2 separate regions of the Homo sapiens genome follow, and region 2 is linked to region 1. Evidence: fine-mapped expression QTL. A gene starts in region 1. The other region holds a variant in brackets. All regions are shown on one strand. Distances are from middle to middle. Region 1 holds the start of ZNRF2 (zinc and ring finger 2). Region 2 overlaps ZNRF2 (zinc and ring finger 2).

Region 1 (12,858 bases):
ACAAAATTTACCATTTTAACCAATTTTAAGTGGTTTAGTGGCATTAAGTACATTCATATTGTTGTGCAGCCTCCTCATTCTTTTTCACCTGGGTTACTGCAACAACCTTAAAAATGCAGTCTTGCTTCTAACTGTGCCGCCATTAAGGAAGGAACTAGAAATCGTATCTCTGCTGACTTATTTTCATTGGTGTATAGAAGAAAAATGGAAAGACAGAAGAAGCATTCTCTGTCATTTCTTCTGTACCTTAGACTTCTGAGTTGCTGAAAATGAAATGCAGACAGTGTTCTCAGGGCCTAAAAAGGACAAGTACCTGCTGTACTGGTTCCATCCCCTGCTGCAGATCATTCCTTGCTCAGGACATTTCAGCCCAAGCATTTGTTCTGAGAACATATAGAAAATAAAAAAATTCACTTGGCATTAAAGGGTCTGGCCACTGCAAGCACAAAGAAGCTTTTAGCAGTAAATTCTATAGCTTTAAAATGTGCTGAAATGATCATTTCAAAAATTAAGAGGCAAAACTCTTAGATGGCCAAACTAAGTTTGTAAGTGAAACATAAAGAAGCCTGAACTGCTTTGGCCCCCACCAGGGCAGCTGAAATTGGCTGGTGTGCACTGAGTCTTCAAGCCCTCTTGGGGGGCAGTAGATGCATCAGAATTGAGGAGCCCACTGCTGCAAATAGCTTCAGTTGGAGCCTTTGGCAGTGCAGTTTTGTATCACTAGATGTCAGTGTGGACTTTCCCAACCTCCGCCTTCTTGCCTTTGCAGGAGGTGGACTAGACATCACTTGGGGGCCTTCCTCAAGTCCTGGCAAACATAAGGCTATTTTCAGAACTGTAATTTCACCAAATATTTTGTCCACCTACATATATTGACTTTTAAGAGTTCTAGAAAATACAAACAGAAACTTTGAACCAAAGGTTGTTCTTTTTAATGCTGTGCCCTTCTAATCTCAATGCTTACATTTGGAAGCCTGCTTACAAGGATGTTCCAAGGCCAGCAATGGAAAGTTCCATGCGGTTCTTTTGACAGCAGCATGCTAGCCCAGATACCTGCAGGCCTAGCTTCAAGAAAGCATGGCTCCCTACACTACCAGGGCTCAGGAGTGAGGGCAGGAAGTCAAGAAGAAGTGTATGTGATTAATGCCGGATGTGGTGGCTCAGGCCTGTAATCCCAGCACTACAGGAGGCCGAGGCGGGTGGATCACCTGAGGTCAGGAGTTTGAGACCAGTGTGGCCCACATGGCAAAACCCGGTCTGTATTAAAAATACAAAAATTAGCCGGGCGTGGTGGCACACACCTGTAATCCCAGCTACTCGGGAGGCTGAGGCAGGAGAATTGCTTAAACCCGGGGGGAGGAGGTTGCAGTGAGCTGAGATCGGGCCACTGCATTCCAGCCTGGGGGACAGAGCAAGACGCTATCTCAAAAAAAAAGAAAAGAAAAAAAAAGAAAAGTATATGTGATTAGCCACATAGGGATTTAGTGGCCATATTTATCAGATTTTTTTTCGAAGTAGTTTGTAATCAGCTGCCTTCTGAAACCTTAAAGAATAGTCATTGTATTAGTTTTCCCATTGCTGATGTAACAAATTATCATAAATTCAGTGGCTTAAAACAACACAAATTTATCTTACTGTTCTAGAGGTCAGAAGTCTGAAATGGGACTTAAGTTGACTCACCTAAAATTGAGGTGTCAGGAGGGCTGTGTTCTTCTTGGAGTCTCGGGGAGAATCCATCTCCTTGTCTTTTCCAGCTTCTAGAGGCCACCTGCATCCCTTGGCTGGTGGCCCTCTTCAGGCTTCAAAACCAACAATAGCCTTGAGCGTTTCTTTGAACCACTCTGACCCTGCCTGCCCCTTTTACTTTTAAGGAATCTTGTAAGCACCCTGGGACCACAGAGACCACCCAGGTCTAGCTCCCTATCTCAAGATTCTGAATTTATTGACAACTACAACGTCTCTCTTGCTTCAGTAAGGTAACATATTCAGAGGTTCCAGGGATGAGGACATGGACATTTTTGGGTGGGCAGAGGCAGCACTTTTCTGCCTACTACAGTCATTACTTTTAAAGTAATATATGATGCAATTTTTCAGGTATGAATTTTTTAACAAACTAATTCAGTGTCACAAACAACTGTTTCTACTGGAGACTATGTTGGAAAATAACAAGGGCTGCATTTCCCTCGCTCATGGAGTGATAACAATGAAAATTAATTTGCCACACCCAGCATTCATATTTGGTCACCTTCCAACTGAACTGAGCACTAACTCCACTCCTTTGTTGACCCCTGTGCTCAGGGTGTCCATCCCCAGAACAGCACTGAGCAGGCACAGGGTGAACACATACAGAGAGAGCTGGAGACGTGATTCCCACACCAAGAAACACTGAGCAAAGTGAAATCCGGTGCGCTGAGGGACCAGACTAGGGTAACCTGTGCATACCCCTGTGCAAATTCAACATACAGCTGGAGGCCTAAAGCCAACAGAACCTAACCCCATGCCTTGCCATAACTACAAGGCTGGTTTTGTTCTGCCTACGTAAAGCTGAATTCAGCTCCCTCTCCTCAAATGTGCTCTTTCCCCCATAGTCCTACTTAGTGCTAGGACCAGGGACTATCTGTCCCTGGTCATCTTGACTCTGTCATCCTTGACTCTTCCTTCTTGGTCACGTAGGACATCCAATTGGCCTCCAAGACCTGCGGTGGCTGCTCTCTCAAGAGTTTTAGAATCTGCCCTACCACCACTCTAATTCAGGTTCTCTTCACTTCTTGCCTGGATGACTACGTTAGCCTCTGGACTAGTCTTCCACTTCACTGTGCGTTCCTCCCTCCCATCAATCCATTCTCCAAAATACTGCTGGAGTTGTCTTTCCATACTGTAAATGCGATCCTGCTACTTCCCTGTTTGGGAAAGTGGTTCCCTTTTGCTTTCTGGATGAATTCCAACTTCTTAGCTCAGCACACCAGGCCGGTTACATGCAGCTTTCCAGCCTATTCTCTCACCCTCTCACCTGTTACTCTTCATTCCAGCTATAATTAACTGCTTGAAGTTCTTCAGCTGCTCAAAGCTCTCCCTTGCTTCATGCTCCCTCAGCCTGGAATGCCTATGGGTGCTGAAGCCAGAAGTCTCTCAAGACTCAGCCCAGCGTCCCTTCTCAGACTACATCTTTGTCCTTCACCAATCCCCATCCCTTCAGTCAGCTCCAGTATGCCTTTACCACATGGTACTCTGACCATCTCTTCATTTCTATCTAAGTCCCTTGATTAGAAGCTATAAGGTTTTTGAAGCTATATGGTGTTTAGTTGGTTTAACTTTACATCCCCAGATGCTCAGCTACTCTGTTTAAAGAATGAAAATATCTCCATTGGGGGTCCTAAGTTATTCCGATGTTTCCCTGCACCAGGTATGACCCAGCTCAGGGCTATGTTCCAAAACCTACCCAGTTTAGACTTGTATCCCTAGAGTTCAGCCAGAGCCCAGCTAACTTCTGGGAAACAGAGGGTGGGGTAAATTGACCAGGAGCTCTTGTTGCTCTATCTTCTCATGGTGGAAGAAAGGCAGTTCTGCAACTATGACCTTACCCTTTCCAACCTGGCCTAACTTGGGGGCGTAGATCATTCAATAGCAACTCAAAGGGAATTGGCCCCCTAATGCACAAACTTGCCCTGGCTGAACAGTGTAGAAGGCAGCCAACTTCACACACAAACTTAATGTGGTGACGACAGTCTGTTAAGTTGGTAGTAATTCCGGACATGCATTAATCACTGCTGCCTGTCCTTAGCGAGCCATAGCTGTTACTCAAAGTCTCTTGCATATAGATTGTCCTTGAGCTCTCTATAAGCAGGCACTCTGGAGAGTTAAAAATAAAGCAGAAATAGAGTTCCTGTACTTGGGAGGCTTAAACAATCTAGTCCTAAAATGTAGGGCTTGCCTTTACGGGGGCTTTTGACTAACTTTGAGGGAGGAAGTGGTAAGGGAAAATGTCTTATAATACGTTTTAATCATTCATGTACAACAGTCATTCACGTACAGTATTCATGATTTAAGCAAGTGACAGGAGGCAGTTTGGAGGGTGCATCTGCACTGGAGGAGGGACCACATGCATTATGTAGCAGAGGGCTATTTTTTCTCCAAGCTAGTCTTCACTTCCGTAGGCTGGGAAAATCCCCTTGGTACCGACCCCATGATACATTTTTCCACTAAATTTTATGTCTTTTCAACAGTATGTCCCCAGTAAAGATCTTGGATTCCTTTCAAAACACTATGTATGGAATCTGAGAGTTTCCTTTATAATGGAGTAAAAGCATCATGGGTTGTGGTTGGTTGGTATTAAGGGTTTTTAAATTAGGGCTCTTACAGATAAAAAAAAAAACAACGTTTGAAAGCCCAAGTGAATTAATTGAGAATAGAACACAATATAAATATTTAAGCTCTTAGTAATACTACATACCATTTTGGCAAGCAAAAATTATTTTTATTAGCAGGTGCTGACATTATATCTCAAGCTGTTTTTAGAAAGGAAAATGATTCTGGAATCTATGTTAAACATAGCCATAGGGCTCCAGTCATTGATTAATTAACATGAAATACTTTTGTGACACATTTAAGTCTATTTAGGACCCAAAGACTCTTTAGTCAAAGTGTTAACTACCCTGTGGAATCAAAAGAAAAAAAATGTTTAAGAGTTTAAATATTGGAGATTTCAAATAGGTAGTCTCTGATATCTTAATGATAATTTCCTTTCAAATTTCATCTATCTAGCTATCTATGAGTATATGTACACACACACACACACACACACACACACACACACACATCCATCCATCCCATGGTGGAAAGATATAGATGTGTCATGACATATCATACTATCATCATTATTATAGCAGTGATGTAAATACTTATTAGTAAACTACTACTAACGAATTATTACCAATACATCCTTATGCATCAATAATGTATTAAAATTTCACAAAATGGTAAAATCAATTTCATTGAGTATTAGTATATATTAAACTGTACAATGTCACAACATGCTAGAGATGATATGGAAATTATTACAATCTGCTAGGGATAATAACATTGAGATTAAAATTTGTTTCTCTATTAACACATTTGAAAGTACTCTCAAATAGAGAATGAATCTTTTGAGAATCATAGCCACTCTGTGAGACTGGTATTGCTATATGATCATCCATGTTTTACAGAAGGAACAGGTTTAGCCAGGTTAAGTGGCTTGCCCTAAATCCCACAGCCAGTGTCAGACAAAGCCAGGGCCTAACCCCAGCTTGAGCTCAACCACTTCACGGCATGTACTTTTAATCCTGTCATGATTGGCTCTTGTCTTTTGCTTCTCATTAAAAAACTAATACAAGTACAGGGGAGGGAGGATAAAAATTTGTTAAAGACATTACATAAACTTTTGATGTTTTCTGAACAATTACCCAACAATGTGACTCCTAAATACTACAAACTAAGATTTTGAATTTAAGATGTAAGTTTCTAATCACCACTAAGATCTTGGACAGTGTATGTAGGATGTATTAACACATATGTAGGATGTATTAAGATTCATTTTAATGTTTAGATGGTCCATTTGTTTCTTTAAAAAGCAAAATAATAGGAAAATAGGCCTATTTAAAAATAGGCAATTATACATATAGTCCTATTTTGGTAGAGATGAGGTAGTGTATGAACACTTACTTGAAAAAAAAAAAAAGCAAAGCCATAACCATCTCTTAAATCCTATAACAAGGGGAAAAGTGGGATGGCAAAACCTTAGCAAAATGTGTAGGGCTACTGCTGGCTGCAGGACAGCCCTGTAGAGAGGCTGTGGTCCCCGACCAAGAGGACTAATGGGTGTCACTATGCAAATTTGCTGTCCCACACATCAAAGGTCTGATCCAGCAGAGTTTTAAAAGAGAAACCAAGAGAGGAAAGAGGAATGCAAAGGAGAGTAAGGGAACACAAAGGGAAGAGGCTTGCCCCAACTAAACTTCAAACTAGACAACAACAAACTGATTGGTCAGGCATTTTTATTGAAAGCCCAGAAGTAGCTTACCTGTTCCAGTGTGAGTTTGTGGACAATAATTTTGTCAATGTGAAGTGCTTTAACAATACATTCAGACTAATTTTGCACCCCCAAAGCCTTTGGTCAAAATATCATTGAACTGCATCAGGAGGAATATAGTGTATTTTAAAACCTTCAAATTTGAAAAATTTTAAAGAGCTGGGGCTCTGGTCTCTTGATAAGTGGTGAAGGCATTAAAACAACAGTTCTGATTGTAGAGGAAAGCGTCATTTAGACCAGTGCTTCTCCAAACAAGAGTCCGAAGTCTGATGGCAGCAACATCACTGGGCAGCTTGTTAGGATGCAAATTCTCCAGGCCCAACCCTGAGCTATGGAATGAGAATCATTGAGGGTGGGGCCCAACAGCCTGTTTTAACAAGGTTTTCCTGTAATCCTTGTGTGTGCTAAAGTTTGCAAAGCACTGATTTAGACTACTGTTTATCAAAGTGCAGATTACATCCCCATAGGGGGGTGTAAAATCAATCCAATAAGCAGTGACCAGCATTTTACAAAAGTGAAGTCAAATAGAAAGCAGAGTGCATTTCAGGTAGCATGGGTATTATCTCAAAAACCCGTTGCAGTTCTACATGTGTGTATACCTGTGTGTACTCATTTGGATGAAGCAGCACTTTTAATTTTTGAAGAACTGGTAGGTATACTAAAGACGTGATGGCCAGGCATGGTGGCTCACGCCTGTAATCCCAGCATTTTGGGAAGCCGAGGCGGGTGGATCACAAGTTCTGGAGTTAGAGACCATCCTGGCCAACATGGTGAAACCCTGTCTCTACTAAAAGTACGAAAAAATGAGCTGGGCATGGTGGCACGTGCCTGTAACCCAGCTACTCTGGAGGCTGAGGCAGGAGAATTGCTTGAACCTGGGAGGCAGAGGTTGCAGTGAGCCCAGATCGCACCACTGCACTCCAGCCTGGTGACAGAGCGAGACTCTGTCTCAAATAAATAAATAAATAAATAAGCGACACATTTTCAACGAAGTCAGAACTGTTTGGTTGACAATAACACACATTGACAGCTTCATGCTGGTGACTGGAGAGAGATGAGAGGGGTGAGGAGAGAGGAAAGAAGGCCAAGGAAAGAACATAGAAGGCCAGCATTTTATCTCCAGAACCTTCGTGGGGAAAGAAACAAGGCTCACCAGAGAGGAGGTGGAAGGGGCACCCACCACAAGCGAAATGTCAAGGAGAATAAGAACATGATAAGTTAATGAGTGACATTCAAGAAAGAATCGTTTTAGTACAACTGGTGAGGATACATGTATTCACTCACTCATTCATTCATTCATTCACAAAACATTTATTGCACCATGGCAAGACCAGACACTGTGTTAAACACTGGAGGTACAGACATGAAGTTTATCATGGAGCCAATTGAGTAGTGACAAGCAAGATATCTAATAATAATAATAACATGATCAGAGCTATGAAGGAGGTATTGTACAGCACTGAGTGGGAACACTGAAGTCAGTCTGTGATGCTGGGATGGGGGAGGAGGTGGCAGGAAACATCTATAAGGAGAGGGCACTTAACCAAAATGATGACCATATCTTAACATGATACTGCATATAAAGCACTGGGTACCTTTGTTTTTCCATGTATATATGTGTGTTTGTGTACACAGATACACGTCTTTATATGTATACATATATTCTCCATTTGTTTAAAAACTTGATTCCCATACCCTAAGAGTGATGAAAATCATTACATAAATGACTTATTGCAAATAGTGAAAAGATGACAAAGTATTTCTGTAGTTTTATAAAACACCACTTGCTATTATTATTTTCAAGTAGAGACTAGACATTTTCATAATGGGAGTCTCAGAGCAGGCTGTTCCCTGGGTATCCAGACCCTGCTCTGCCGTGAAGAGACCACACCAACACTGAGGAAGGCACTGAGGAGAATTTTATTACATTTTAGAGAAGTTATAGGATTTTAAAGAGGCAGGTGCCCTAGGATTTAACACAAACAGTTCAGGTAAGAAACCTAAAGTCGGCCTGGTGCGGTACGTCACGCCTGTAATCCCAGCACTTTGGAAGGCCGAGGCAGGTGGATCACTTGAGGACAGGAGTTCAAGACTAGCCTGGCCAACATGGTGAAAGACCGTCTCTACTAAAAATACAAAAATTAGCCAGGCGTGGTGGCACGTGCCTGTAATCCCAGCTACTCTGGAGGATGAGGCAGGAGAATCGCTCGAACTCGGGAGGCGGAGGTTGCAGTGAGCCGAGATCACACCATTGCACTCCAGCCTGGGTGACTGAGCGAGACTCCGTCTCAAAAACAAAAACAAAAATAAACCTAAAGTCCAAAAAAGTAAAATAATTTGCTCACTACAGATAATTTAGTTTGGTGTTGGGCCTAGATTCTAGGTTTTGTGAGTCAGGTGCAGCGTTCCTGGCACCACAGTATTTGCCCTACCACAGAGGGTCAACCTGGATTATCCCGAGTTCTTCCAACTCTGCGCTTCCTCCCAGGTTGGTGTTTCATGAGTAAGTCTGAGATCAAGCTGGCTTTTGAGCTTCTGTTTTTTTTTTTAATCAGTGTGTAACACCAACACCCACCGAAACCAAACGGCTCTGGGCAGAGGACACAGCCATTCACGCCCCCTGCCAGGAAAAGCTGCAGCTGACACAGGCTCCTACAGCGTCGGCGGGCCACGTGCGGGAGGAGGGGCCGCCTTCTGGTTGGCGCCCGGTGTCCGTTCCTCCTATCGGCGTAGGCCCCGCGAGGAAGACAAGGGCGCGCCCTGGCTGGGAGGGCGTGGCCAGAGACCTGTCCATCACCGAGTCCACGAGTGGCAGCACCTACCACACCGCAGTACCTTGGCGAGGCGGAGCAGGGGCAGGCAGGTCGCGGAAGGGGGAGGCGGAGCAAGGCCGGCGGGAGCCAATCGGCCTGGCGGCACGAGGGGGCGGGGGCGGGGTCAACGCGCGCGACCCAAACACACGGGCCGGGCGCACCCTGCAGCCGCGCCGCTCCGCGGCCTTCCGGCGCGGGGCCGGGGAACCTCCTCCCCATCTGCGCACCCCCCGCCTTCGCGGCCCAGATCCTCCCGCCAGCCCGGCCCCTCCTTCGCAGGGGGAGCGAGGCGACGGTTGCCGGGAAGCGCGCGCCACCTCTCCCTCCCATTTTTCGTTCTCCCCTCGCGCGCCACCCGTTTTTCCTCTTTCTCCGTTAATAACAGCTGGGTGGCTGGGGGAGGAGGGAAGGTGGCCCCGGCGGAGTCTGGGCGGGCGCCTCCCACTCAGCCGCCAGCCGCCGTGGGAGCCGGAGGATGGCGGCGGTAGCAGCGGCCGCCCGAGAGGAGGCGGTGCCGAGATCGGGGGCGCCGAGCGCGGCAGCAGAGAGCGGTAGCGGCCCGTCGTGGCGCACCAGAACCGAAACCAGCGGCAGCCGCACGGCCACTTGAGCCGCCCCTTCCTGCTGGAGCCAGCGAGGGGTGCCTGCAGCCGGGACCCCTTCCTCTCCGCGTCTCCTCGTCTCCCGCGCCCGCGTCAGGCCGTCGGCCTCGCCCGCCGCCCCAAGAAGAGCGCGCCGGGCGCCGACTGCCCCTCTGGACGCCGGGCGGCGGCCCTGGACGTGCGGGGGCCTCTCTGGGCCGGCCGCGGCGCCTGGGCCCTGCCCTCTAGCTCCCGCGCTCGCTCCCGCCCTCCCGGCTCTCGGGGCGCAGCGCGCGGGCCCGGCCCGGGGCAGGGCGGACATGGGCGCCAAACAGAGCGGCCCGGCCGCCGCTAACGGCCGCACGCGCGCGTACTCGGGCTCGGATCTACCTTCCAGTAGCAGCGGAGGCGCCAATGGGACCGCGGGCGGCGGCGGGGGCGCTCGGGCCGCCGCCGCGGGGAGGTTCCCGGCTCAGGTGCCCAGCGCGCACCAGCCCAGCGCCTCCGGCGGCGCCGCGGCGGCCGCGGCGGCCCCGGCAGCCCCGGCGGCCCCGCGCAGCCGCTCCCTCGGCGGGGCCGTGGGGAGCGTGGCGTCGGGGGCCCGCGCGGCGCAGTCCCCCTTCAGCATCCCGAACAGCAGCAGCGGCCCGTACGGCTCGCAGGACTCGGTGCACAGCAGCCCTGAGGACGGCGGCGGCGGCCGGGACCGGCCGGTGGGCGGGAGCCCCGGCGGGCCGCGCCTGGTGATCGGCTCCTTACCAGCTCACCTCTCGCCGCACATGTTTGGAGGTACGGACCCCTCTCCGCGCACCCGCGCTCGGTCCTCCCGCGGCTGCACGTGGGCCGTGGCCGCCGGCTATTTTTACCCTTCTCCTTTTCTCCTTCTGCCGGGGCGCCGGGGGCTGCCTCCCGGACCAGCCCGCGTCGGTCTCCATCCTGGAAGAAACCCGGCGCTTAACACCGGCGGTGCCGCTACCGCATAGACGCGTGGTTTTGTTTTTAAACATCCTGAGCACCCTCACCTCAGCGGCTGCCCAGTAGAGAAAGTCTATTTTCCAGTGAGATGACTGGAGCAAATGTTGTTTTACAACAAACCGACGAAACAGCCCTTGTGGTTGTGGTTTTTAGTACCAGGAAGTCAGGAGGAGACCAGTTGCTAAATGTAGTTCTATCTGGGGACTCGAGTGGGGAACAGTTTTTAAAGGCCAAAAGTCAAAGCGTCTCAAATGAACACTGAGTTACCATGTTTGGACCGACTTTTAGTATAAAGCTGTAATCCTGAAATCTGTGTCAGTAGTCCCAGTTACTATGTCATTTTAATTGGATGAATGCGTTAATGAAAAGTTTGTTTTTAAACCTCACTAAACTGCTACTTAAGATCACAGTTAATGTGAGTCCTGCTTAATTTGGAAAGCATTTAAAAAATGGAAAAGTTTCTTAAGGAAGTAAAAATTTTGCACATCTGTCTTCAAGGTACAATAATTGGCTAGGTTCTTTTGAAGAGCAGTGTTGACTAGAGTTAAGGAAAAGTCAGTTGTGAAAAATGGACATTTTTAATAGCAAAGTGATGTACTTTACTACAGAAACAGGAGGAAGTGTGCGTTGTCCTGGGGAAAATGAATCCTACTTCTTCAGTTATGTTTTATGCTGATCTACTTTATTGCAAAACGCTAATAGTAAATGAATCAAGACCACCTCCCCTCTCCCCTTTATGAAAATAAATAGAAGTATAGAAGATAAGCATTCCCATTTCATCGCATTATGTATCTGGTATTAGAAAAATTAGCAACTGAGCACAGATGAGCAGCGAAAACACGATCCCCTACATTTTTGTGCCGCTTTTACTTATATATTTGTAAACGTAGGAACTTTGGAGACTTAGTAAAGTGGAATACGTAGTAATTTATCCGTTCTCATGTTCTGTACTATCAGCACACACGCCAGCATAAATTAAAAACAGGAATGTCATGTTTCATTTTTCCCATTTTTTTAGTAACGCTTTGCAAATTCAATTGGAACGACGCTTGACTTTTAATTAGCTACCTTGTTTTAAAGTAATTTTTGCTTCTTAAAAATATTCATCCCTCTTAAAATTGGGCTATTTTTAAAAGTCATTTGCTTTTGATTTTGAGTAAAAGAACTCTACTGGTGTCCTTAAAGTGATTTGATCACAACTAACCTAACAGTTGAAGTTGCTGTAGTCCGCACTGAAGAATATAAAAGGCAGTTTCTGAGAATTGGTGATTAGTGCGAGAATGAAGGGCAAACTGGTTTTTAATGTTTATCATTATCTTTTTAAAGTGAAAATTTGCATTTAGCAATTATTAGAAGATGAATATTTAAGTTTGCTAAAGAAGGGTGAATAGGAAAAGCCTTGTCAAGTTAATAGTTAATATTTATTTAATATGCTGATTTCTAAAAATTCATTTTCTAAGAGCTGATAATTCCCTTTGAGAAACATTATAGTTCTGTGGGTTTATTTTGTTAAGTAAATGCATTCTATTCAGAGCAAGAGACAGTTGAGCCCCATGCTATTCCTAGTAAGTAAAAATACCTAGTTGCTTAAAGTTGGAGATAAAGCATTTATCTTTTTTCTTATCTAAGTTCTAGATTTGTGCACTCATTATAGTTCTTTTAGTGCTGTTGGGGTTGGGTGACTGGGGCCTAGTAGTACAGTGACACTTTCTGAGGAACTTACAGCAGCCTTTCTCACCCGGCTTTCTGGAGACAATTGTGCCGTAGTGTGCAATGAATTTTAACTTTTAGCTCCAGTGCATTTAGAACGGTTTTAGTTATGTATCATTCTTGGAACAATTGAGAAAAGTCACTGAAATAATTTCCTGTGTTTGGTGATTCAGATGAGGAACCTCAGTTGAGAATTGCTGGAAAGACATCAGAGAAATTACCTGTTCTTATTATATGACAGGATCAGATGAAAGTGCCACATCCTGAAATCTCTGTTGAGGCAGGGAGATGGAATACATTTACGTAAAAACCCATCTTAGTGGCATTGCCTTACTGAGATTTTTACCTATATTTTAGTGGACGGGTTATTAGGAAAACAATAGAAGCATGTTTCTCATCATCTTGAGATTTAGGGAGCTAAATGAAGAATCTTATAATTAAAAAAGACTTGACTAGTTCACATTTACTTAACTTTTTAGTATCTATTATAACATTATTGTGTTTATTCAGTTACAAATTGTATAAATGGTTATATACAAATAACTGCATCTGAAAATTGATAAAAGGATTATTTCAGAATTAGTGGAAAGTTCGTATTGTTTTTTGTAAAACTGTTGTTTTAATTGTTGTTTATATTATTAACGTCTCCTAATAAGAAAATGTGGTACTAATAAGATTCAAAATTATTCTCTTGTGAGCTCTCATGTAATTT
Region 2 (12,858 bases), 90 kb after region 1:
TTACATATGAGTGTTATATTTGCTTATTTGTTTGTTTTCGAATATAGAACCTGAATTTGAAACTAGCCTACTACATGGGCAGGGTGAACTCTGTTAATCAGGTGTCTACAGAAATCTGAACCAATGGAGTCTGCTTCTGTGGGTCTTGAAGAGTCATTTTTAAGAGTTTATAGACATGGAATATCTTGACTTGTACATTTTTGCTTCTGTCCTGACTGTTCTTATTTATCAAGTGATAAATTCTTGTATACCTTTTAATAGTCCTAGATTAAAGGTATATGGGTTTGAGGAGGATTCAGTGTTGTTAAAACATTTTGTAAGGCACTGTGTAGCCATAAAGCTCAACGTTTCTGATATCCTTCAGCATAAGAATTTAATAATCAACCCAAAATAGAGAGACATGAATATTTGTGGTCTTGATTAGTTAGAAAATTGCTGTACTTATTTTGGGGTTTTTAGTTATTTGGGAGAAATATTTTAAATCTCCGTGTGTGTGCATTCTTTACTTGCGTGTAGTCCTTATTGTGAAAGGGGGATGACTTTGTTATGTATTTTTTGTGACTAAACTTTAATTGATCCTTCTGTTTCTTAATCTGTTCTTCTCCAGATCACTGATTTTATGAGTTTTCAGAATAGTAAGTAAGGGTATGAAGACTTACAGTAACTAAAGCAATGTTCATGGGGAAATCTATTTTTACACAGGTTTTCTTGTCTTGACAAGATGCTTGAAAAACCAAGAGGATATGAAAATCTGTCTCTGGAGAAACAAAGACGCAGGCATACTCAGCCAGAAATCTGAGTTTTGTGAGACTTGGTAATACAGAGATGGACAATCGTACTGGGGTAAAAAAACCCTGCTGAAGAGAGGACAGTGACCACAGAACTCAGTGTACCAAACATGCATACAAAGGACACACAGGGATTTTGAAAATGCTGCACATCCCTTAATAGTCATCTACATAGGTAATACTGATAAACATTTTGTATTCAGACGCCAAAGTTAACTGATTTAAAAGTTGATTTACTTTTTATTAAGTTCTCCAGAGCTGCACAACTAGTTATGTTTTGATTTGTTTTGTTTTTTAATTTGGGGTCTCTTTGTTTTCCCCAACATAATGTTCATAATGTTTCTGCATTCATCTGTTCTTAAATTGAAAAACATATAATTTACTTCTTATAAATTGAAGTCTTAAATGTGAAACCAAGAAATGTAATCAAGCAGTAAAAACATCTGAATGTAGACCATGATCTCAAGTTCTTCCATTTTCTCCCCCACGAGTGGAAAATAGACTTCTACATAGGAAAGCTAAAATATGTTAATATTTTTAAATTAAAGGTTTAATATCAGAATGCAGTCCAAAGAGCAAATCATATTACATAATTACATTTTAATTAAATATAGAATATTCTACTGAATTGCAATTTATTAAATATTCTTATCCTCTTAAATAAAACTGCTCAACAGTTAATCAGCAGTGAATCATCTTGCAGCTATGCAATTTAAAAAAAATACAGATTACCAATTTCAAGTGCTGCCAGCTAAAATAACTGTTTTAACGGGTATCTTTTGTTTGTTCTTTTCACTTAATTATTTTATTGTGCTTTGCATCTCCAGGCAGTTCTCTCACATTTGGGTAAAATGTTTAGCAGGCTGTAAACTTAAGAAAAGGGTAAAATAAAATTTTCTGGAGAGGAACTTGGAATTTGAGGGAGATTTTATATACCTTTAAAAACTGTAATTTAATTGGGATGCCAGGTTTATAGCAATTTGCAACTTTAATTTTCCAGATAATCTGGAGGTTAGCATTTGATAAATGATTTTTTAAAGTAGATATGAAGATTTTGTTAATTTATAATTTATTCATGTGTTATTACTGTAATTGAAAATGTTATAGACACTTTTAAATTCAGTTTGTGTAGAAAGAAATGTGTTAAACAAAATTATGTTAATAAATATTCCCACATAATACATCTGAATGGTTAAAAATACTGGAAGAGTTGTCAGGGCTACAATAGTGAATGTCCTTTTTTTTAATATCAAAAATATCGATAAGTAGGTTTTGTGTTTTCAACGTAGGGAAAATGTTATCAGTGAATAGGTGGTGTACTTTACTTGGTATAATTTAAAGTTGCACAGTAAGTACTGTTTCCTTATTTTAATCTTTCTTTACTCATAATGTATTTAAGAATTTGCTGTTTTATTTAACGCTGCTACTCTTAATCTTCTCTAAATTTTTCCCCCTACTTTCTTGCTTCTGTTTCACATTTTTTAAAAGGGCAAGTACAGGAGCAACTGCTGCTACCCAGAAAAATGTGTGTATTATAAATAATTAAAGAGTTTTTAATTGCTTTCTGTATGATTCCAGCTCAGATAACATTTTCCCTGAAGTTATGCTGTGAAATGCCTTTTGTTATGCTGCAATTGCTAAAGGAATCCAAAACCTCCATTGTGACAGCTGAAGGCACAGTTTAATAGGTGCTTTTTTACTAGTTATGAAAAATATTCGTCCCTTAAGGAAACGATTCTTTTTCTGTTTTTTTCTGTTACCATGAAGTCTTAATTTGATTTCATTTTATTTCACATTTTTGATTTTGTAAGCTTTCATACCCTCCTGCTCAACCCCCTCAAGTAAAACCTCTTAGAATGTGAATAATTGGTTCATTTTCTATTGCTGGTATACTCTTGTGATGAGAATTATTTTGTTGTCTTCCATTCTTAAAGGAAGAGATTTATTACAGCTGTGGGGATTAACTGTATTCTCCTGGAAGTTGATTTTCTGATAGGTTAATGCAAAAGTCATTGCAAAAACTGCTATTACTTTTGCGCCAATTTAATAGTTCACTTGTTTACTTTTTAACCTATATTGGCTTAAATTCACTTTTTAGCCCCTCTTTGTCATAAGGTTCTGTGCTGCATTTGCTACAATAGAAGCTCCTATGGTTTTAAAGAAAGTTCAGTGTTTTGTCAGTGTCAAGTGCTACTTGATGATTATATTTGTCTGGAACAGTATTCACTTAAGTCTGTTTATAGCAATCCCTTTTTTGACAAAATTTACAAAGTTGGCATTTTTACTTTAAATTCCATCTCTATCAGTGACTTCCTAAAAAGAGCAACTTAGAAATTGGGGGAAAAATGTTTTTAAAGCCCAAATGCTCCAGTTTTTATTCAAAGTCAAAGTCGTTATTCTGGAAAATACAAGTAATGTTCTATATAATGTCACTTAAAATATTCGTAAATCTATTTTGCAAACACTGAATAGTATAAGTAAGATATAAAATCACAATAGATATTTAAATACTAAGCTGAAACTTCTGACAACTAATTATTATGGGGGACACAATAAAGATTGAAAGCCTAGGTTACCAAGTTGGTTTTAGCTTTCTAGAATCTTTGTAAATACTCACGTTCAAATAAGATCACACGTGCATATATAGAAAGCAATATGTTCTGAAATTTCACTTTAGTGCCACTGTTTGTCCATAATGGATTTATTGCCAATTTTGAATCCTCATCTTACTTTGATCTGGCTTTTTTTTCCCCCCCTTGCCAGAATGTTTAGGAGAAAGTAAAATTATTCCGTTTTACTTTGGCTTTTTGCCAGAGATACAAACTAAGAATAGTCTGAATATGTGTTTTTCAGATCTGGTTACAAGACGGATTATAGATTGTGTTTTAGAGCAATGTTGTGATTGAAATATAAATAATGGTATAACTTTTTTTGTGTTAGCAAAAACAACATTAAAAAGGTTATGTTACATAATATGTAGGTTTTGGTTTCTTAGTGCAAGACTTATATTTCTCTTAAATGTTGTATAATTATTTCAGTTTTCACTCACTAGCTACTTTACTAAAATGTAGCCCCAAAATGACGGGCCAGCCTCAGCGTATCTGCCATATGTATTTCAAAGATTACAGTCAGAATGAGTTAATGAAAATGGCAGGTTCCTTTTCAAAGTTTATTTGACTCACAGCCATATTGCTAAGTTTGGGTATAGTGAAGTTAACAACAATCACTTAAATTAATATCTTACAGCAAGATATACTGATACTGTTTTAAATGAAAAAGACTGTAAATTCAATGTAAATATTACCTAACTTTATGTACCAAGTTAGGAGAGTGGAAGAGGGGAATTTTTCAAAAAATAAGCTGTATTTGAACAAAGCATGAAACTTGTTGTTTTAAAATTTAAGAATAATTGAATTTACCATCTAATTGGCATCCGTACTGTGCATTGATAGTAATATCCAAATCATCTTATTCTTCCATAGAGGAAGCGCTCATATAAATCACATTGCTGAGAACTATATAAAACTACATAGAGGTAAATGGTGCTTATTAAATATGAGTATAGTTTGTTACTTGCTGGAAGTCTTCTAGTTCATTTGGACCATTTTCTTACCCTGAGGTGAACTCAATATCTGTTGGCAATGGGTGGTTAAATGTGAAGTGCCCTTGTTCAGTGTCCCTTGTTCTTGTACAGGTATTTTCTTAGTTTAAAAAAAAAATTCTAGCATGCCAACATTTGTCTTTGGCCTATTCCTTTTTTTCTGAAGTGTGTAACTTCTGATTTTTTCTTTGCTATGTTGTAAATAACAGTAGCTAAATTCTCTGTTTTACTATCTACTTTTCTTTTCTTCCCAGATCATTTCATTCTAAAATTAAATTGCTTGGTTTTCTTTAGAGGAAATTGCTACATGGTATACTTGTAGTAGTGATTCATATTAAAAAAATAGCTGGTAAATCTTTCTAGGTAGTAACTTATCCAAACAATACTTTGAGTATCATATTTTGTGAATGACTTGCTTAAACTGGGAAACTGAATATTCTTTTTAAATCATATAATTCCTGTATTAAATGTGAAACACACAGTCTCCAAAGTCACCTGATTCTCTGTGGAAAATGAAAGGCATTGAAGGAAACCAGATACATTAATACTTAGTTTTGGTTGAAAGTGCAACATTACTGTACTTAGAAGGGGCTTGGTTTATTTTTAGATATTTAAGCTATCATTAATTTTAGACCAATGGCTAATAATAAGAGAGATTTTTGGTTGCTCATTTATGGAGAGACAAAGAACAGCATGGCATAAACAAACATCCCAGAAATAAATGAAAAGTTTTAAGTGATAAAATTGTGTTTTCTATGAACCAGTGTTGTACATGAACCAACATTGTGTTTCTTAGCTCTGACCTGTACAGTGAGGTACCTGTCAGGACCCCTAGTCTTGGCACTGGAAATGACAAAGTTCTCCTATTACTAAATTCTCATGCCTTCCTTTTCTGACTTAGTAGATTGAAATTGGTAGGTACTAATGATTTATGTTTGATAAACTTAAGTTCTGCTGATATCCTGTTACTGGTAATTCTGGTACCAAAATTTCAAACGGTTTGATTATTAGTAGCATTTTGAGTACCTAGGTGCATATAATACAGTTAGCAGACCCTTACAGAGTCAAAAGAGATTTTGGAATCTGGTGATACTGTTGTTTATTACACTAGCCTATTACATTTTCTTTCTTTATAATAACTGTTTATGTGAGTTTCATTGAAAATCGTGGCTCTATTGCTTTATTCATGGTTTCCACAACTCTTTTTGTAACACCTTAATTTTCTCTCTTAGGTATTTTCCTGTTAAATAAGATATCAAAAGCATCAATCACAAGACAGAGAAAACGTATTAGGAAAAACTTGTATTAGTATATTCTAAACTGAAATGGAAAAACTCATTATTCATATTTTAATAAATAAAACTCCCAAATGATCTTGCTAAATTATCCCACTATTTAGAAGTAGAAAATAAGAGAAGAGTGCTTTCAAGGAAATTTGTCATATTCTCCCTTCTATCTAGAAGTTGACAATGAATTGCAATAAAACTAAGAAATAACTGAATGCTGAAAAATACCATGAATTAATGTTATGGCTTCTTTATTTTTGTATATCCATTCCCACAAAATTGAATTTAAGATTATTAATGAAAATTCTATATTAAGTAATAATGCTTGTATTAGTAATGGGTAAAGAAGTCTTTCTTTGTTACATTAACCGTTAGTAAAAGATGTACTTTGACATTTCTGATGTAAAACCTATATGTAAATATTGTAATTTAAATATGATTGGACAGCTGTTAAGTTTTGGGGAGGGAAGCAGATGCCAGCGTTCTCTGCTGAAAAGACAAGATGGCGCTTGACGGACCACAGCAGATGGAGCTGGAGGAGGAAAAGGCAGGCAGTGGACTCTGCCAGTATTATCTGTCCAAGATTGAAGAACTCCAGGGTCAACTGCAATATAAATTGGATGGGGGAAAGCCACAAGGAACAGTTCTGAACTCCAGGTGCATTTGCAGCTGATTTTGAATGATAAGACCCAAAACCTCTGGAGGCGGCAGGTGCACGGGAATGAACTAAATGTTAAAGTGTGCCTATTACAGGAGGAGCTACAGCTGCTGCAGGAATAGGACTCCTGTGTCAGG[G/T]AAGTAGTCCAGGCCATGGGTAAGAAGAAAGTGTTGGTCAAGGTGCATCTCAAGGACAAGTTTGTCATAGATGTGGACAAAAATATCAGCATCAGTGATGTGACACCCAGTTCCTTGGTGGTTCTAAGAAATGACAGCTACACTTTGCACAAGATCCTACCCAACAAGGTGGACTCATTGGTGTCACTGATGATGGTGAAGAAAGTACCAGATTCAGCTTATGAAATGATTGGTAGACTGGATAGGCAGATCAAGAAGATCAAAGAAGTGATCGACCTGCCTGCTAAGCATCCCGAGCTCTTCAAAGCACTGGGCATTGCACAGCCCAAGGGAATGCTGCTTGGAAGAGACTGTTGGCCTGGGCTCTGGCTCATCATAGGGACTGTGTACCTTTATTCATGTCTCTGGCTCTGAATTGGTACAGAAATTCATTGGGGAATTTCTGTGATGGCAGAGAAAATGCTCATCTGTCATCTTCATGGATGAAATTGACTCTTTTGGCTCCTCAGAGCTGGAGGGGGATGCTGGAGGGAACAGTGAAGTGCAGCAGATGATGCTTCGAGGGTGGCTTTGAGGCCACCAAGAGTATCACGGTTTATCACGGCTGCTAATACGATTGATATCCTGGACTCGGCACTGCTTTGCCCAGGGCACATTGACAGAAAAATTGAATTCCCAACCTGCAATGAGTAGGCCTGGCTGGTCACTTTGAAGATTCATTCTCAGAAATGAACCTGACCCAGGGGATCAACCTGAGAAAAATTGCTGAGCTTATGCCAGGAGCATCAGGCTGAAGTGAAGGGCATGTGCACAGAAACCGGCATGTATGCCCTGAGTAGCGAGTCCATGTCACTCAGAAGGACTTTGAGGTAGTCCAAAGTCCTATCTCATGCCAAAGGACAGTGAGGAAAAACATGTCCATCAAGAAACTATGGAATTGAGGGCACATCCTTTGTGTGTATCCCTACAATAAAACTCAGTGGGACAAGCAAAAAAAAAAAAAAAAAAAAGTTTTGGGGAGGGATGATCTGCTAGTGTATAATCAATAACTTTTAACATTTAGCTTGTATTTAGTAACATTTCATTGTGTTTTGAAAAAAAGTAAAAAATCTTTTGAAGCACAATTTTCATGATGTAAAAGGTATTGAGTTTCCTAGTGTAAGAACATGAATTCTGGAAACAGTCTTAGGGACACTGGGCAAGATAGAGGCCTCCACCCCTCCCCCCCCCACCAACTTTGTTTGTAAAAGGAGATAATACTGCCTACATCAGGGTTGGTGTGAGGATTAATTAGAAGAGTACATGTATGTAAGCACCAGACACATAGTAAGCACTTAATAATGTTAGTGGCTAGTATAAACAGTAAACATATTTGTGCCCATTTATGAATAATTTTAGTATTCGCTCCAGTCATGAGGTGTAGTAGTAATATCTAAGACCTTAACTGAAATGTTTAAAGAAACCTAGGTATAACAGAGAACATTATGGGTGCTGATTTCCACTCTCACTAAAAGCCAGTGACTTTACTATATCAGCAAGTATAAAGCACTACTTGACTCTGTAGATTGTATGGACCAAGAATGTAGATATGAGACAGCTGATCTCTACGAACTGAATTTTTAGTGAGTAAAGCAAGCAAGCATGTAATAGAGAACAATAAAAGCTCTGATAGACATATGTACAAGGTGTTGTAGAGGTACAAAGGAAAGTTATTCAGACTAGGCAAGAGAGTGATTAAACTTAAGTATTGAAGAACAAATAGATCATAGCTCTAGGGGATGTGGAACATACAAAGTGGAAAGTTTGGGAAGAGTATTCCCAAGGCAAAAAGCTTAGCACATACAAACATAGGAGGAAAGCGAGACACTCTTAAAGAGTTGCTATGCTTTGGGAGGTGGAGGCGGGCGGATCACGAGATCAAGAGATTGAGACCATCCTGGCCGACACAGTGAAACCCTGTCTCTACTAAAAATACAAAAATTAGCTGGGCGTGGTGCGCGCCTGTAGTTCCAGCTACTCAGGAGGCCGAGGCAGGAGAATTGCTTGAACCCAGGAGGCAGAGGTTGCAGTGAACTGAGATTGTGCCACTGTACTCCAACCTGGCAACAGAGCGAGACTCTTGTCTCAAAAAAAAAAAAAAAAAAAAAAAAAAAAAAAAAAAAGTTGGCCAGGCACGGTGGCTCACGCCTGTAATCCTAGCACTTTGGGAGACCGAGGCAGGGTGGATCACCACCTGAGGCCAGGAGTTTGAGACCAGCCTGGCCAACATGATGAAACCCCATCTCTACTAAAAATAGAAAAATTAGCTGGGCATGGTAGTGTGCGCCTGTAGTCCCAGGTACTTGGAAGGCTGAGGCATGAGCACAGGAGGCGGAGGTTGCAGTGAGCTGAGATTGTGCCACTGCACTCTAACCTGGGCAATAGAATGAGACTCTGTCTCCAAAAAAAAAAAGTTGCTATGTCTGAAGAGGTAAACAGGTGATAAATCATGAAGAGATTTGTGTCTGAAACTGTAATTGAAGGATTTCAAACAGGAAAAAGATAATCACATTTATACTTAAGATTAGAGAGGTATGATACTGGAGGCAGAGAGACCTGTTAGAAAATTTATACTAATTCAGGCAAGATGATGAAGGGCAGAACTAAAGCAATGAAAATAGGGAAAGCAAGTACAGAAGAACAAAACTTAAAGATTTAGAGAGCAGCACTGACCCAGCTGGGACAAGTTCTAGTTGTCCATTCTATTGCCAGTGCTGCAGAGTCCAGAGGCAGCACAGTGCATCATTTGGTGAGGGAGTTCACAAGGGAGAACCAAACTAGCTTTTATAACAGACCCATTTGTGGTAACTAACCCAGTCCCTTGATAATAACCATTAATCCATGCATAGATTAATCCATTTATGGGGACATAGATAGCCTTCATGACCCAATCACCACTTAAAGGCCCTACCTCTTCGTACTGATACATTGGGGATCAAGTTTAGCACAAGTTTCAGTGGGGGCAAACATTCAAATCATAGCAGTGTCTATTAGGCTGCAGGAGGTGTCTCTACCCAAATGTCGGTAAGTATGTGATAAGTGGGATAGTTGAGCTAGTTTAACGATGTCTAGGTTGGTTGGGTTGGACTTTTCCTCGTGTCACCTCCCTGCTTAGCTCTAGCTGCTTATTGGAATGCAGCCGTGCTTTCCTGGGTTTACTTAGGAAATGCTGAGATGCACTCTGAAGCATTCTTGAGGTTTTCCCTTTGGTTCATTTGTCCCATACTCTCTCCGTTATACCAGTCTTCTCAGATCTTCACAACACAAGTAAATCTGTTGGAAGCAAGGTCTTGTAGATGTAGACATATGGGAAAGATAGAGCCTGCTCTCCTGATGGATGCTGTTGTTGAGATAGGTTGGGTTGGCCTAGGTAAGAGGAGGACCAGAAGAGATTTATGATTTCTTGGAAGGCTATGAGTTGCTGCTGGCCCCATCATAATCTTTTTTGTTTAGCAGAAGTCAGGAAACGAATACTGGTACACTTACATTTCTTGGAAGAGCAGCAGAAACCTTGGGATATCCTTGTGGGTCAAGGAGGCAACTCTCCTCACGGATTCCCTGATTTGATAACAACATACTCATGGAAACACCAATCCAAGTTTTCACAAGTTTCTCTTAAAGTTAACTTAAGACTTCCTAGACCAAGAATTCCTACCACGCAAGGCCTGTGAAAATATTGTAAACTTAATATCCGACAGGGAGATATTCAAAGATGCCAAAGTACCTGTTTTTATAAATATTACCACATGGTTTAAGATTTGACTTCTCACATAAAATGAGTAAAAATAACAATGATTTTTCTGCAGTACCTTAATGATGCTGTAATTATGAAGCAGGGTTTTAAAATTCTGCCATGTAGTGCCTTATTTTTATAGTAATGTTTTCTATGAACCTTCTAATTTAATGTGTATTAAGAGATTTAAAGAGTATGTAATTAAAAAATATCTTTCCAACAAAGTCACCTTGAGATTTAATGCTTTCTAATTGGCTTGATCATTTGATGGCAAGATAACTAGTTGGGTAACTGAACATAGACTCTACAGTGTTAGCAAATATGAATTTATATTTCAGAAAAATATCAAATAACTAATATCAGAGCCTGTGTGCCTGCCTTTCAAGGTAGTACATTAACACTTGGAATATTAAATCTGTAAATACTAAGGATATTATCCAAATAGATGATATTCATCAAATGGTATATAAAGTTCATCCGTTGTTGGAATTCAAATGTTGCAAAGGCCAAAGGTATTTAATATCCAAACTATTGTTTTAGCATATATTTATTCTTTGAAATCTGGTGTGTATTTTACACTTACAGCCCATCTCTATTCAGGACTATAGCCACATTTTAAGTTATCAAGAGTCATATGTGACCAGTGGCCACTGTGCTGGCAGCACAGGTCTAGATGACTCTGGGAGACACTTCTACTCCTATCTCTCCTTACCTGAATATTTCTGAAGGCCTTCTAATTCCAACTTTGTGAAGACTCTTGGGTCTCTTTCAAAGTTTATTTAACTGCTGCACTTGAGCAGAACTTGTCCTAAATTATTACTAAAATTGAGGCAGTTTCCTCATATTTATTTATTTATTTATTTTTTAGAGACAGAGTCTCGCTCTGTCGCCCAGGCTGGAGTGCAGTGGCGCGATGTCGGCTCACTGCAAGCTACGCCTCCCGGATTCACGCCATTCTCCTGCCTCAGCCTCCCGAGTAGCTGGGACTACAGGCGCCTGCCACCTCGCCTGGCTAATTTTTTTTTTTTTTTTTTTTTTTTTTTTTTTTGTATTTTCAGTAGAGACGGGGTTTCACTGTGTTAGCCAGGATGGTCTCAATCTCCTGACCTCGTGATCCACCCGCCTCGGCCTCCCAAAGTGCTAGGATTACAGGCGTGGGCCACCGTGCCTGTCCCAGTTTCCTCATTTTTAAATGAAAGAGCTGGAAATACCTTTAAAAGGTTGAGGGTCTAATGAATCATCTTCATGTACATTCATAGATAGCATTGGCTTTCATTGTGATTATGGTTTTTGGTGAGGGCACATGGGCTTTTAATACCTGGTCAGTGATATAGTTAGGAATTGCAGTTTGTGACACTTTGGCCAAATAATCATCAGGAATTGTGAGTGATGCTGGTGAATAATAGCTGTAGTCAGATTTGTCCCTTGTGTTGAGTTCTATGGCGGCATTTTCATGGGTTTCAGACCTTCCAGCTAATAGTTGGCTTCCTGCCCACGTCAGTGCTTAAACTGTCAAACTTGTCCACCAAACCCTCAATTCATAAAGCTGAGTCTTCAAAATCCCGCATAAGAGGCACCAGTAGTCAAGTCTAAACTGTCTTCAGTAAGATGTTCCCTAGTTTGCCTAGAGATTCTGTGCTCAAATGCCATCTTGAATGGAGTCAGCAGGCAAGGGTTGGCAGGGAGGTTGTCTATAAGTTTGGCATACACCATGGGAAGATAGACATTACATTCGTCTTCTTTGGGATCCCTGTAAGCCAGTGGTTCTCAATACTTGGCTTAACATTAGGTCAACTCAGGAGGTAGGAAGGACGTATAGAGGCATCTCTTTAAATATATTAAGGTCTTGACCTCACCCCAGATATTCTGAGTTAATCTAGTGTGATTCTGTTGTATAGCCAGTGTACAACCTATCAAAGGTTTTCTCATACACCTCAAAAATAGGGGTTAAAGGGTGCCAAGAATGTCTCAGACCTCTGTAACTCAGCTGTAGCTATATTCCTTTCAATTTTCTTTCCTGCTTGATCAAACTCTTGACTCTTTTTGGATGAGAAAACTGCTCTGGCATCATTATGCATTCTCCCCAAATCTGGTTTATAGGACAATGCCTAATTCAGCCAGGCTCCGATCCTTAATTTTCACAAAAGAATTTGTAGATTCCCAAAAGCTCTTTTTACCTCCAGAATGGCTCTGACAAATCAAAAGCATTTGGCTTCCAGACACTTCTCTTCCTTTGGATTTAAAGAACTTGACTTTGACATTCAAAATAATATCTGATTTGTCCTCATTTTCTCTCCCTTCCGAAGCAGTGACCATCAATGAGTCATTGAATAAAATGCCATAAGCAACTAGGAACACAAACTAGGAATGAAAAATGTTCAAAAATAGTCTTCTGCTACACTCATATCAATCACTAGAAAGCTACTGAAGCCTAAATATATAACTAGTCTGATTTTCATTCTTACAGTTACCTGGTAATCTTCAGAAGTCTTATCTCCCTGAAGAAGAATGTGTATAGGAGTTACTTGAACTAGAATGCAGTCACTATCATTCATTCATTTAGCATTCATTCATTTAGCACATGTGGTTGGTTGTGTTGGTTCATTCATTTAGCAC

Evidence for each region. PIP is the estimated chance that this variant, and not a neighbour inherited with it, causes the effect.
Region 2: its variant is fine-mapped to the expression of ZNRF2 in whole blood (INTERVAL, PIP above 0.99).

The regions. Positions count from the first base shown.
Region 1 is chr7:30,275,577-30,288,434 of GRCh38, forward strand. ZNRF2 (zinc and ring finger 2) reads left to right here and starts at 9,021. Exons shown (of 5, transcript NM_147128.4): 1 at 9,021-10,250. The coding sequence starts at 9,782. It overlaps LOC124901607 (a long non-coding RNA gene), which reads left to right. Exons shown (of 3, transcript XR_007060274.1): 3 at 8,623-8,678. It overlaps LOC105375218 (a long non-coding RNA gene), which reads right to left and starts at 10,509. Exons shown (of 4, transcript NR_136267.1): 1 at 10,484-10,509. RefSeq lists an enhancer at 3,774-3,893 and silencers at 5,814-5,873, 8,867-9,296, 9,307-9,356, 9,437-9,826, 9,907-9,986 and 1 more.
Region 2 is chr7:30,365,333-30,378,190 of GRCh38, forward strand. It overlaps ZNRF2 (zinc and ring finger 2), which reads left to right. Exons shown (of 5, transcript NM_147128.4): 5 at 703-2,357. It also overlaps the pseudogene DKFZP586I1420. Among named protein-coding and RNA genes, the nearest start is that of LINC01176, 19 kb to the right of the region's middle. The variant G/T (reference allele first, on the strand shown) is at 6,471.